2 linked regions of the Homo sapiens genome follow. The protein of the gene in region 2 binds, or shares a complex with, the protein of the main gene of each other region. Each region holds a gene or a part of one and is shown on either strand. Other genes may lie near its edges.

Region 1 (7,000 bases), about 130 Mb from region 2:
CGGCTGTACAATCTCGGCTCCCTGCAACCTCCGCCTACCGGGTTCAAGCAATTCTCATGCCTCAGCCTCCCAAGTAGCTGGAATTACAGATGTGTGCCATCATACCCGGCTAATTTTTGTATTTTTAGTAGAGACGGGAGTTTTGCCATGTTGGCGAGGCTGGTCCTGAACTCTTGGCCTCAAGTGATCCACCTGCCTTAGCCTCCAAAAGTGCTGGGATTACAGGCATAAGCCACCACACCTGGCCTCAGTTTATTTTCTATGAAGAACTTACATTGGGATAGTACTCCATCACAAGCAAATATTCCATGCGTCCATCTGCAGTGACTCTCTCATCTCCAACTATAAAGCGGGCAATGTTGTCATGTTCCATCAAAGGCACTCTGTAAATGTTCTTTTCGTTGATAAAATTCTGACGGTTTGCAAAGGAAAACACTTTTACAGCAACTGGACGCTCATCCAAGGAGCCTTTATATACTGCTCCATATCGACCTCGGCCAATCAGCTGCAAGTGTTTTAAAGAAAGCAAGGTATTAATATCACAATTGAACAATCAAATTTACTAAATAATAAAGTACAAATTTAAACAGAATGCTACAGCTCTCTGTTGCTTACAGTTTATTCCATTATCAAGAAATTAATAAATTCTGTTCTAGTATGGCTGATGAAGCTCCTACCAGACCCAGCCTGCCCATAGAGAACATTTATAAATGCTGGACAAAATTTAAAAAAAAGAAAGATCTAAAGGCAGATAGATCTTGAGAGGCATTAAAGCTTTGAGAAAAAAGTGGTATGGGGCAAGCTACCCATTTTTATGACTTTTATCCTGAGGGCAGGCTGAAATCAGCACTGTGCAGTGGAACTAAAATTGCTAAAGAAAACCATTCTAGGCTGGGTGTGGTGGCTCATGCCTGTAATCTCAGCACTTTGGGAGGCTGAGGTGGGCAGATCACTTGAGGTCAGGAGTTCGAGACCAGCCTGGCCAAAGTGGTGAAACCCTGTCTCTACTAAAAATACAAAAATTAGCCGGGTATCATGGCACACGCCTGTAATCCTAGCTACTCAGGAGGCTGAGGCAGGAGAATCACTTGAACCCAGGAAACGGAGGTTGCAGTGAGCTGAGACCGCGCCACTGCACTCCAGCCTGGGCGAAAGAGCAAGACTGTCTCAATTAAAAAAAAAAAAAAAAAAAAAAAAAAGAGGCCAGGCGCGGTGGCTCACGCCTGTAATCCCAGCCCTTTGGGAGGCTGAGGTGGGTGGATCATGAGGTCAGGAGATCGAGACCATCCTGGCTAACACGGTAAAACCCCATCTCTACTAAAAAAATACAAAAAAAAAAAAAAAAAAAAAGTCAGGCGTGGTGGTGGGCGCCTGTAGTCCCACTTACTCAGGAGGCTGAGGCAGGAGAATGGCGTGAACCTGGGAGGCAGAGCTTGCAGTGAGCCGAGGTCGCGCCACTGCACTCCAGACTGGGTGACCGAGTGAGACTCCGTCTCAAAAAAAAAAAAAAGAAAAAAGAAGAACAGAAAATTGTTCTGGCCTTGGGAAACTCAGGACATATTTTGGACAGCCACAGTTGCTAGAAAATGAGGGGAGAACCCTAGAAAGGAGAAATTCAGAGAGAGGAAAGCCCAGTGAATATACAAGAGAGTTTCCAGCTAAAGATAAAATAACTGAGGCCGGGCGTGGTGGCTCACGCCTGTAATCCCAGCACTTTGGGAGGCTGAGGCGGGTGGATCACGAGGTCAGGAGTTTGAGACCAGCCTGGCCAACACAGTAAAACCCCATCTCTACTAGAAATACAAAAATTAGCTGGGCGTGGTGGCATGCGCCTGTAGTCACTTTTGTGGAGACTTAAATACTTGCATAAAGATCCCTACATAGAGGCTGAGGCTGGAGAATCACTTGAAACCGGGAGGCAGAGGTTGCGGTGACCCCAGACCATGCCTTGCACTCCAGCCTGGATGACAGAGTAAAAAAAAAAAAAAAAAGATAAAATAACTGAACTGAGATTTGAGCTTCTGCCCCAAACAGATTTGTGGTATGTGTTCAACCAAGTTTATTGCTTACTAAAACAACAAAAAAAAATCTTTTTTTTTTTTTTTAATTGAGATAGTCTTGCTCTTTCACTCAGGCTGGAGTGCAGTGGCACGGTCTCAGCTCACTGCAACCTCCGTTTCCCGGGTTCAAGTGATTCTCCTGCCTCAGCCTCCTGAGTAGCTAGGATTACAGGCGCGTGCCATGATACCCAGCTAATTTTTGAGTTCAGTGTTCCACAATACAATATTCACAATATCCAGAATACAAAAAAATTACTCAACACCCAAAGAACCAGCAAAATGTAACCCATTCTCGTTATTTTTGGCTTCTGGGGATTGCTTTTACTTTTTATTAAAACAGGTTGGGGATTTACCATCATTTATTTAAGGATATATGTTGTGTTTCATACACTGTTTCCAGATCAAAATTATACAAAGTGTCCTTTAAAAAGGTTATATCAATATATAGTTAATTCAGCAATGTTTGGAAGTGTTTCTATCACTTAATCATGGCTAAAATTCCATGGGTTAACTAGTATTTCTTTCAGCCTTGTAAATTGGACATCTTACTGTACATTTCTTAGCCACACTTACTTCTTTTGTGAATTGGCAGTTAATACCTTTTGTCCTTTTTTTTTTGAGACAGGGTCTCTGTCACCTAGGCTAACCACAACCTCTACCTCTTGGGCTCAAGTGATCCTTCAACCTCAGCCTCCCGAGTAGCTGGGACTACAGGCATGTGCCACCACACCCAGCTAATTTTTGTATTTTTTACAAAATAAATGGGGTTTCACCATGTTGCCCATGACTTGTCTTGAACTCCTGGGCTCAAGCAATCCACCCACTTTGGCCTCCCAAAAGAGCTGGGATTACAGGTGTGAGTCACAGCACTCAGCCTTTTTGTCCATTTGCTATAGAATGTTTCTTTCATCTTGATTTATATCAGTTCTTTATCAAGTTTTCCCTTATATGTTGAAATGTTGAAATTTATTTTTCAAATTTGGCTTTTATCTTTGTTTATGGTATGTCTCTCCCAAAACAGAAAGTTCTTACAATTTTTTATATAGTCAAATCTATCACATCTATTATTTAATAGTCTCTGGTTTGGGGACCATAGTTTTCAAGTCATTCTTAATAAATATAAAAACACTCATCATGGTAACACTTTTAATGTAGCTTCTGAGATATCACCAAATGAAACTTAAATTCTATATAAAAGAGCCTTATGTATCTATAAAAATATGTAATATATGCAGACAAGGAGTATTTATTTGTTGTCTATTATGGATCCCTTGTGGCACACTCTTCTCAAACTTTCATGTCTTTATTCTCATACCCTGTACAAATCTCTAATCAAAGGTCAACCTCTTTCTAAATATATTTTCTTTTTCTTTTTTATTTTTTGAGACGGATTCCTGCTCTGTCACCTAGAGTGCAGTGGCGTGATCTTGGCTCATTGCAACCTCCACCTTCTGGGTTCAAGCAATTCGCTAGCCTCAGCCTCCCAAGCAGCTGGGACTACAGGCGGGCGCCACCACTCCCAGTTAATTTTTGTATTTTAGTAGAGATAGGGTTTCACCATGTTGGCCAGGCTGGTCTTGAACTCCTGACCTCAAGTGATCCCCCTGCCTCAGCCTCCCAAAGTGATAGGATTACAGGCGTGAGCCACTGCACCTGGCCATATTTTCTTTTTCTTTCTTTCTTTTTTTTTTTTTTGTGGCAGAGTTTCGCTCTTGTTGCCCAGGCTAGAGTGCAATGGTGCGATCTCGGCTCACCGCAACCTCTGCCTCCCGGGTTCAAGCAATTCTCCTGCCTCAGCCTCCTGAGTAGCTGGGATTACAGGCATGAACCACCATGCCTGGCTAATTTTGTATTTTTAGCAGAGACAGGGTTTCTTCATGTTGGTCAGGCTGGTCTTGAACTCCTGATCTCAGGTGATCCACCAGCTTCAACCTCCCAAAGTACTGGGATTACAGGCATGAGCCACTGCGCCTGGCCCATATTTTCTTTAATAACCCCCTTTTCATCACTTTCTTATCCACTGTACTTTTCTTCATAGCACTTACTACTACTTGCAATTATATTATACATTCCTGTACCTGTCTGTAGACTCCCCAATTCAAATAGAAGCCCCAGGAGACATTGTTCACCTATGTTCCTAGTGCCTAGAATAGGCCTTGACAAAAAATTGTAATTTAGTAAATAGGGTTAAATAAATGAATGAATGTCTTAATGATTGAATGAAGTCACTGTTCCAGGTCTAGTATCACAGTAGAAACAACAGTCCATAATCTAACGGCAAACTTACCTCCAACAGTTTCAGATTATCTAGATCAAGAGAGGGTTCGGATGCTGCTGCCTCCATCATGTTCATACTGTGAAGACCTTGTTTACGGTCTCCTATAAGAACAGGAAACAGGTTACTAATATATGGTTTTCTTAAAATGAATATCTTTTTACACTTTTTATAATATTACACTTAAAAAGAAGAGCTGCAGAAAGATTAGCAGCAAGATTTATGCCTAATGTCAATAGGAGTAAAGCTATTTACTAAACTAGGTAATACCTATAAATTAAGATGAATGCAGAATAGCATGAAAGCCAAATTCTGGGAGACACTCCCATGATGACTTACTTTAAAAGTTTAAAACCCTAAGCAATATTATAAAAACTTTAAAGAAGATTGTATAGAAGTTATTCAAATGAATCAATGAACGCTGATTTCCTAAACAGTCCATCAAACCTAAAGTATATTAGAACCAACTTGACATTTGATGATACTGAGGAATTACTGTTATTTTTTCAGATGTGAAAATGGTATTATGGATATGTATTCTTAAAGCTCTTGTATTGGCCGGACGCAGTGGCTCACGCCTGTAATCCCAGCACTTTGGGAGGCCAAGGCGGGCGGATCACGAGGTCAGGAGATCGAGACCATCCTGGCTAACACGGTGAAACCCCGTCTCTACTAAAAATACAAAAAATTAGCCGGGCGAGGAGGTGGGCACCTGTAGTCCCAGCTACTCAGGAGGCTGAGGCAGGAGAATGGCGTGAACCCTGGGGGGCGGAGCCTGCAGTGAGCCGAGATCGCGCCACTGCACTCCAACCTGGGCGACAGCGAGACTCCGTCTCAAAAATAAAATAAAATAAAATAAAATAAATTTTAAAAAAAGCTCTTGTATTGTAGAGATAATATTTATAGATATATAATATCTAATTAAATATTTACAGATATATGATATCTGTGATTTGCTTCAAAATAATCCAGTGGCATGGAAAGGGGTAGTGACTGATAATTTAAATGAAACAATACTGTCCATACGTGATACTATTGAGGCTGGGTGTATTTTGCATAACTTTGAGACTATTTTTTTTAACATACGGAATTTAAAAGGAGCAAATAAATTGATTAAATTGCATGTTTAATAAACAATAGGACAAAAAATGGTAATTTTTACCTGTCAACATTCTGTATCCAAAGCATAAGGCAACTATCAAAACAGCTAATACAGAGACTGATGCCAAAGCAATGATTATTGTCTCATCTCGGTTAAATGAATGAGGTGGACCTAAAAGAAAACAAATTTTGAAATGTCATTTTTTTTTAAAAAAGTATTTTGTTAAATACTGACAGACTGCCCTTTAGAAAGGCTGTACCCATGTATAATCAAATTAGTAATGTTTTTGCATCAAAGGAAATGAAAGAAAAAATTAGTAATAAATGTGATAATTACAAATTATATTTTTTAATCATACAGACTATTCTGTATAGATTTGGAACACTAAAACACCAAGTAGATGTGCTCCTAATTATTAAAACATCAACAATACCATGAAACAGATTAGACAGGATAGTATAATATCAAGAGTCTTAGAATCTAACAGTTTTAGAATCACATTTGGTTTTAAATCCTCAATTTCCTCATTTATAAAAATAGTACTCTGTATTTCCCAAGTTAGCTGTAAGATTTAGATGGTAGTCTAAGTACTTAACACAACGTCAAGAATATATTATCTGGCTGGGCACAGTGGCTCATGCCTATAATCCCAACACTTTGGGAGGCTGCTGCAGGAGGATCACTTGAGGCCACAAGGTCAAGGCCAGCCTGGACAACATAGCAAAATGCCAGACATTAAAACAAATTAAAAAAAAAAATTAGTCAGGCATGGTGGCATGCACCTGTAGTCCCAGCTACTCAGGGGGCTATGGCAGGAGGATTGCTTGGGCCCAGGAGTTTGAGGCTGCAGTGAGCCATGATTGTATCACTGTACTCCAGCTTGGGTGATGAAGTGAGACTCTGTTTCTTTAAAAAAAAAAAAAAAATTAAAGTTTTTTTTTAAAAAAGCATATATTATCTACGCAATAAATGGTAGTTACACTTATCAATATTGGTATTTTTATTAATGAAAATAGCATGGCTTTGGAGGCAGTTAAATCTGAATAGGACTTGAAGCTCACTTCTTCCACTTAACATATGACCTTAGGAAAGTTTCTTCTCCTATCTGAGCCCAAGTTTACTCACTTGCAGAATGGAATGGGAACACACATAGGTAAATCACAGGGCTATCACAAACATGTAAACATTTTATGTGTTAAGTTCCATTCTGTGGGTCAGATCGCATCTAGAGCAAATACCCTTTAGGATGGATGGCCACAAACTAGAGCATATCCAAAAGAGAGCAAGTACAACTATGAAGGTTTGAGACCTCTGAACTGTGATGGGTAGAAAGAACTGAAAGCATCTGATGAGGAAAAAAAAGAAAACTTGGGAGGATATGATAGCTGTCTTCACATCAAATAACCAGTTCCAATCAGTGTATCTTCAAGGATAAGAGCCTTTAGTTGAGCATACAGAAAAGCATGGCTTATAAACAGACCTGTCTAAAACAGAATGAGTTGCCCTATGAAAGAGCTGTTCATTGTTTAACTAGATGTAGTTATGCAATGTTTGGTAATACTG
Region 2 (6,981 bases):
CATTTGATCACTTTATATCTCCTTTGATCCTTGTCATTTACGTCCTTATATTTCAGCCATCTTTTTATGAATGGATTTTCCCAACTAGATTGCCATCCTCCTGGTTTGAATGGCTCAAAACTCCCTTCTATGTCTCTATCCTACTATGATGGCTTAAACAGAGGTAGTGCTTTAAAAATATTGATTAGTTGATGATTCTAGGCACCAGACTAAATTGATTTATGGGCGTGACATATGACCTTAATCCATCATCAAGCTCTTGGGTTGGGCTTGGGAGTTATTCTTCCACTCTAAGAAGGGAAGAGACTTGACTCCCCATGGACAGGGAACATGGAAGAGTAGGCTGGTTGCTCTACCCAGGAGAAAAGTATAAAATAAGAGCTCACTGTAGTGGGAGGAAGGCATTACAAAGTATACAAGGAAGCTTTTGGTTTTAATGGATATATTCATGATCTTGATTGTGGTGATGGTTTCAATGAATGTTACATATGTCAACACCTTTCAAATTATACACTTTAAATATGTGCGATTATACTTTTATACATCAATATTTTTATATGTCATATTTTTATAAGTCAAATATACCTCAATAAAGCTGTTTTGAAAAAGTAAGTTCACTGTGAAGTTCTGTGCATGTGCAAATGCAGTAAGCAATAGATGGAAGAGTTACATTTCAGGGCAAGAGAACGAATGTTTGTTGACAAATTTCTCATGCCAGGTGCTTTGCAAGCATGATCTTCTCTGGTTCTCACAATGACCCCATAATGCAGGTATTGATTCTCTACTCGTTTTGCACCAGAATAAATCAAGCCTTGATGCAGATAACTGATTTCCCCAAATGACAAGGTGATAAAGGAGCACGCTTTTTTCACCTTGGAGGTGGCACTTTTTTTTCCCAAGATGGGGTAGGTTTGGAGTTTTTTTGGTCTTTCTCTCCTAGGGAGCTGCACTAAGCAGATCCAAAGAGTCAGAAGAGAGGCAATAGTAGCCAACAGGGCATGTCCTGTGCGATTTCTGTCCTCAGGCTGCACATTTCCTGCAGACTGGCAGAGGTGCTGGCGGCTGGGTTGTTTACTAAGAGATGTGTTCCTGCCCTCAATAATCTCCAGTAATAATAAGCACAGTAAACTCCACATCCTGACCTGGATCATCCAGATACTCTATGAGAGAAGTGAGAACGGAAAACGTTTCTAGTTTTCCAGGGGATGCAAACAACATTTTCTCACCCACACCCTGAGCCAGACACTTAGGGCTCAGTGCTGAGAAGTATTAGGGAGGGTTCTTACAGGAGGAAGTTGTTCATTTTCAATTCAGACTCACCTCCAAAAGCAATCTGTAATCTCAACTTGCCATTTCCATGAGAAAGATATTATGAATTATAAATTTTGGCAGCCAACTCAATTTTAAAGGGAGATAATATCTTAGGGACTAAGGAATACCTACTCAACATTTATTCCAGTACCTAGAATATTAAGTAACTCATTAGTAGTCACTAAAGTTTGATCAGCACTTCATAGTAAATGGAGTGCTTTCTTATCTGTAACCTCCTTTGAGTCACTCAACTATGTTATGTAGGTATTATTACTCCCACTTTATAGATGAGGAAATTGAGGCTCTGAGGCATCAGCTAATTATTCACAACCACTAAGCCAACTAGCTCTCAAAATCCCAAATCCTGAGCTATTTCTTCACTATTACCTTTCTTCTTTCAAGAACATCTGGCCAATATTAACGGGAAGCTTCTTTTATACCTGGTTAGTGACTATAAAAGCATAACTGGCAAAAATTAAATTAGTTCCTTTGGACCTTCAGCTTCTACTATAGATATCTAGATATCAGGGGTTTTTTTTCCTACTAGGACCATATTAACCAAAAAACAAACAAACAAACAAACAAACAAAAACATTAACTTGCTAGCTCATTAGATTTAGTTACCAAATTTAAAGACCTAAGAGAAGAAAACACACTTTTCCCACCAATAATTCAAAGCTTGTACGTTGCTCTTTATAAAGACGGAAATGATGAGCTGGATGATTAATGGGCCATCTACACTTCCTGGAAACTGTAAACAGTGCTTTAAGGATGTACATGACACATCAAACAACACAGCCTTAGGAAGAATCTTTAAAATATATTTCCATCCTGTTTGAACATTTCTTAAATAAGGTCACAAAATAAAAACTTATCAAAAGTTTGAACAAAACACAAATCACAATTTGATGTTTTTTGACTGTTTTTACCCTTTTTATTCTAAGTAGAAGTTGAGAAATTTTTTAGTTAATTAAAAGCCCATATGGCAATCAAGGCCTATTTGGAAAATGACAAAGGTACGGCAGTAGACCAACATTAATTCTTTGTATTACTTGGTGTTCAAATTAACATTTTTTAAAAGGACCCAATTATGATGTCAAATTGATAGATGTTTTGTGGCTTTGGATTAAAAGATGTTTGTAAGTATTTTTCGAGGTTCCTGAAATGACTATATAATTGGTATAGAACAAAATGTGCCTTGTTTTTGTGTATCCATATGTATTTAACATCCTTATATAGATGTATTTACCCTTACCTATATCATTCCCATGCATTGTAAATTTACTTATTGTGTCTTGAAAAAAATCCTAGCAAAATTTCATCAGCAAAAACTTACCTTCATTCTTGAAACTCCTAATGATGTTGGCAGAGGGCATGGAGGTCCGATCTGTTGCAAATTTGTTGTAGAGTTCCAACATGTACTCTGGTGGGTCCACCTTGGCTGAATCCTGCGTGGGGATGTCAGAGAGGTTTAGTGTCTTAAGAAACTCATCCTTCATGCTCTGGAGCAGTGTGTTAAAGTCGACACCGTCTTGCTCTGAGAAAACATCACCAAAGAGGGACATATCTTCTTCCAGAGGAGACTGCTCTAGGTTCATGATGGGGCTGCCAGAAACCAAGTAAGCTGCCAGGCAGAAAAGAGCGCACAGTGTCAGGACCAGAGAGCCCATGACTCCGCTCGAGCTCCTAGGCCAAGCCAGGAAGGTTTAGCTTCCCTGGGCTCTAAGTGGCAGTTTTATCTTGTGGAACGTAAATGTCTCCTGTCACTGGAGACAAGTTTGGAAACTCTTCCTCTCTCTCTCCCTCCCCCTACCACTCTTCCTCTCCCCCTAAAAGTCAGGTTGCAGTAATTGGATAACAAAATCCCCTATAGGGGCCTAGCCTTTCTTATCTCCCTAGTGTAAACTTGTGCACCAGAATTTGTTTCTATCTTGCAATCCCTATTTCTTTTAATGAGCATTTTGTAAACATTTCCACATTCTGACACTGGTTGAGAGATAGGACAATTTTCTCTTTGCAAAGGCTCTGCTTCTCTTCCCTTCAATTCACTTCCTTTCAGCAGGAATGCCTAAATTCTGTTTTTATGGGGCTTAGTTTCACACATGCATATAATAGGTATAAGAATCAACATAATGCACATCAATGGTGATACATGTTAATTTGAGAGGTAGGGCTCAGATAAACACTTGTGAAGACAGACCAAATATCCAAACTTTCCAAGTTTAAGTTAATAGCTATAAATGAATTATATAAATTTTTAGAAGTGTACCTTTTTAGAAACAGGAAAGTATAAACTTCATGATTGACAGGCTTTTTCCTACCTATTTGATCTGGCTAAAATAGCATTTGAAAAATAGGGCAAGTGCTTAGTTATACTGGCAACTAGAATTTATTAGATGCTTCCTACAAACAGGCATTGTACTGAGTGCTTTACACCTATCATCAAGTGTGCTCCTGTAATAACCGTATCATTATCTCCATCACATATATGGGTCAGTGAAGTGCCATAGCTTGCCAGAGGCCACAAAGTTGCAAAGTGATGGGGCCACAATTTCAACCAAGGCAGCCTGATTCTTATGAAGAATAAAACAGTCACACTTTTAAACCACTCTTCTACCAGACTAGGGCATGGGCAATAATGCTGAGAGGCCAACACGTCCCCAGATCAGCCTGGAGGCAGGAGGCAGGCAGAAATTTGTAGCTGGATGTGGACCTCAGGTCCTCCATCTGTGCAATGAGTTGTTAATATAACCAACATCTCTGCGAAATTCATCCTTCTGACTCAATCAAAATTGTCATCAAGAGGCTCCAGCAAAAGCTTGGTGTGATGGTTAATACTTACTGTCAACTTGATTGGATTGCAGGATGCAAAGTATTGATCCCGGGTGTGTCTGTGAGGGTGTTGCCAAAGGAGATTAACATTTGAATCAGTGGGCTGGGAAAGGTAGACCCACCCTTAATCTAGCTAGGCACCATCTAATCAGCCGCCAGCACGGTTAGAATATAAAGCAGGCAGAAAAACGTGAAAAGACGAGACTGGCCTAGACTTTCAGCCTATCTTTCTCCCATGCTGGATGCTTCCTGTCCTTGAATATGGGACTCCAAGTTCTTCAGTCGGGGAACTTGGACTGGCTCTCCTCGATCCTTAGCTTGCAGACAGCCTATTGTGGGACCTTGTGATCGTGTGAGTTAATACTTAATAAACTCAGAAATATATCTCCATCCCCTATTAGTTCTGTCCCTCTAGAGAACCCTGACTAATACACTCGGCAAACAACATTACTAGGCACACAAAAAACGCCAAATGCCTTGGTCCTGAAAATAAAAATGGTAGAATCGATTGTGTGTCCAGATTAGGAAAGACAAATCAGGTTCATCACATTTTCCATTCTAACTAGTGACAGTAGCAGCCGGGGTGCAGCCAGAGAGGCCCTGCGGACAAGCCCAGGGGATGTTTTTCCCACTGAGGTGGTAGTTCTGGTATCTTTCTGACGTGCACACCATTACTCACGCGTCCTGGTGCTGTGTTCCAAGGGCTGTGTCAAGATATTTGGTTCACTGGAATCCTTTCTCAGTTTCTAGGTTAAATTTTCCTATATTCATGCTCATCGTTTAGCTACAATGTCTCCACTTAACTTTTTCTCCAGGCTCACTTAGGTTTCTAGTCATCTTTTGATTCTTTTTCCTCCTAAAATGTACAATGTTACAGCCATTTTTTAAATTACCATAGAAAGAACCATATTTTGTTTAGTAGTTGTTAATTGTCTATTTGTTTAATAGTTTTGATTTTGATTCAATGTTCAATTTTGATTCAAACTTTCTATTCCCATAGTAAAACGACAATTGTAGACTGGAGACAGATTATACCCTGAACAGTCCCACAAGTGAGTGAGTGACTCCAAGGGCCAGAAGCCGTCCTTCGGGTGGTTCGTTTTCACATGAGGTTTCTGACAGCATACCAGCAATGCCCTGTATCATGTCCTGCATCCAAACAGGCACCCATTTATCTTCACACACACACAGATGTCAACGCACACTCCAAAACTCTGAATGCAGGCATGTGCGTGTAACTGCCACAGGACAGCAGTGTAAGTGGTGGTACTTACAACCCCTGAGCACACTGGTTTCAAAGGTCACGGGGAGAGACATGCATCCCACATTGCGGAGTTCTAGTTCTTTACATTCTTGAGCATAAAAACATTAACTGAGACTTCACTGGCTTCCCTGTACTTGGTGTTAGAAAAACTACAGGGTCAAATATTTGGATCCATGTTGATATTTGGGGATGATTAAAAGATACAGTAGGAAAATGACTATAGCCATATTTCAGACATTTCAAGATATCAGCGTGTCTTGAGACGCATGCTTGGTGAAGGTTCTTAAACCCATACCTGTGCTGGGTGGACAAGGAAGGAGGTTGGCTTCATGCTTGGAGGAAGGGGACATAAGCTCTCTCCCTCTTCCAGGCCTGGGACACCTCACATCTTAGCTGCAGAGTCTCTTTATCCCCATATTTTTCTCTAGAAGCTTTTTCTGATGACTCTCATCTGACCCTAAAAGGTCCAAATGTCTTTACATTCCTACCCCTATTTTGATCTTTCTGGATGCAATTCATTCTATTCTTTTGCACTTATCTCATTATTTTGTATCCTTCTCATTTGGAATGTGTTACGGTTCATTCAGAGTGGATGGGCAGTTTCGTGAGCCAAAGATGTAAAAGGTATGTTTAGATGTTTTAAAAGAACCCATACATGTGGAAAGCAAAATATTAATTACACATTATGCTTTTCCACCCCACTGCAAAATGCTCCAGAACCTCTGATTTGCAAAGTTCTGGGCCAGTTTTTAAAACTAGTTCCATAACTGTACAAACTTAAAGAATCTAACATTGAACTTCATTGGATTCTCAAAGGGATCTGGGATCCAGACATGGTCAGAGCCACTGGACAGCATCCTGATGAATTCTGCTGTTTCCTGTGAGTAGTGCACAGCCCCTGAATAAATGCAACCAATAAAATTATCCTGAATGAAAAGAGGCCAATGAAGTCAGGAGGTCTTTGAACATGACTCTAGGTTCTTGGAACCCTCTCTACCTTGGATCCCACTTCAGAAGCATTACATTACTCCTGCTACCTTCTCAGGACCAGGTGTGATAATAAAAAAAAAATTTAACAAGCTATACGATGGGTTTTGCCCATTTAACTTATATATGAATTGAATCATGTTATATGTTTTCTTCCAAGACTTACTTTTTTGCACTCAACAGGATTTTTCCAATGCACACTTGTTGATGCCTGTAGCTGAGTTCATTGATTTTCACTGAATTGTTGTCAGCTTTATAAATACATAAAAATTTCTTTGTACGTTATACTGTTGATAGAGACTTTGTTTCTTTTTTTCTCATTATTTACAGTACTACAGTGAATAATCTTACTGTTATTTTCTATTTAAGAGATTCTCGGCCAGGTGCGGTGGGTCACGCCTGTAATCTCAGCACTTTGGGAGACCGAGGTGGACGGATCACGAGGTCAGGAGCTCGAGACCAGCCTGACCAACATGGTGAAACCCCGTCTCTACTAAAATACAAAAATTAGCCAGCCATGGTGGCATGTACCTGTAATCCCAGCTACTCAGGAGGCTGAGACAGGAGAATCACTTGAACCCAGGAGG

The links. Proteins that work in one complex are often made in the same cells at the same time.
Region 1: the proteins of BMP10 (region 2) and BMPR2 are in contact, whole or in part, in a crystal structure (PDB 7PPA), measured with the Homo sapiens proteins. Residues at the interface, in NP_055297.1 of Homo sapiens: Tyr329, Lys333, Asp338, Ser339, Trp340, Ile342, Ala343, Pro344, Pro345, Gly346, Tyr347, Glu348, Glu395, Pro396, Ile397, Ser398, Ile399, Leu400, Leu402, Val407, Tyr409, Phe411, Ala417; in NP_001195.2 of Homo sapiens: Asp38, Ser64, Tyr67, Leu69, Lys81, Cys84, Trp85, Ser86, Ile88, Gly89, Asp90, Pro91, Gln92, Glu93, Thr103, Thr104, Pro105, Pro106, Ile108, Tyr113, Phe115.

Annotation. Positions count from the first base shown.
Region 1 is NC_000002.12:202,512,327-202,519,326, reverse strand, and holds part of BMPR2 (bone morphogenetic protein receptor type-2 precursor), read right to left. Parts: intron 5,609-7,000; coding exon 5,498-5,608; intron 4,440-5,497; coding exon 4,348-4,439; intron 506-4,347; coding exon 275-505; intron 1-274. UniProt on the Homo sapiens protein: On ligand binding, forms a receptor complex consisting of two type II and two type I transmembrane serine/threonine kinases.
Region 2 is NC_000002.12:68,868,378-68,875,358, forward strand, and holds the start of BMP10 (bone morphogenetic protein 10 preproprotein), read right to left. Parts: upstream 3,021-6,981; 5' UTR 2,982-3,020; coding exon 2,648-2,981; intron 1-2,647. UniProt on the Homo sapiens protein: Required for maintaining the proliferative activity of embryonic cardiomyocytes by preventing premature activation of the negative cell cycle regulator CDKN1C/p57KIP and maintaining the required expression levels of cardiogenic factors such as MEF2C and NKX2-5.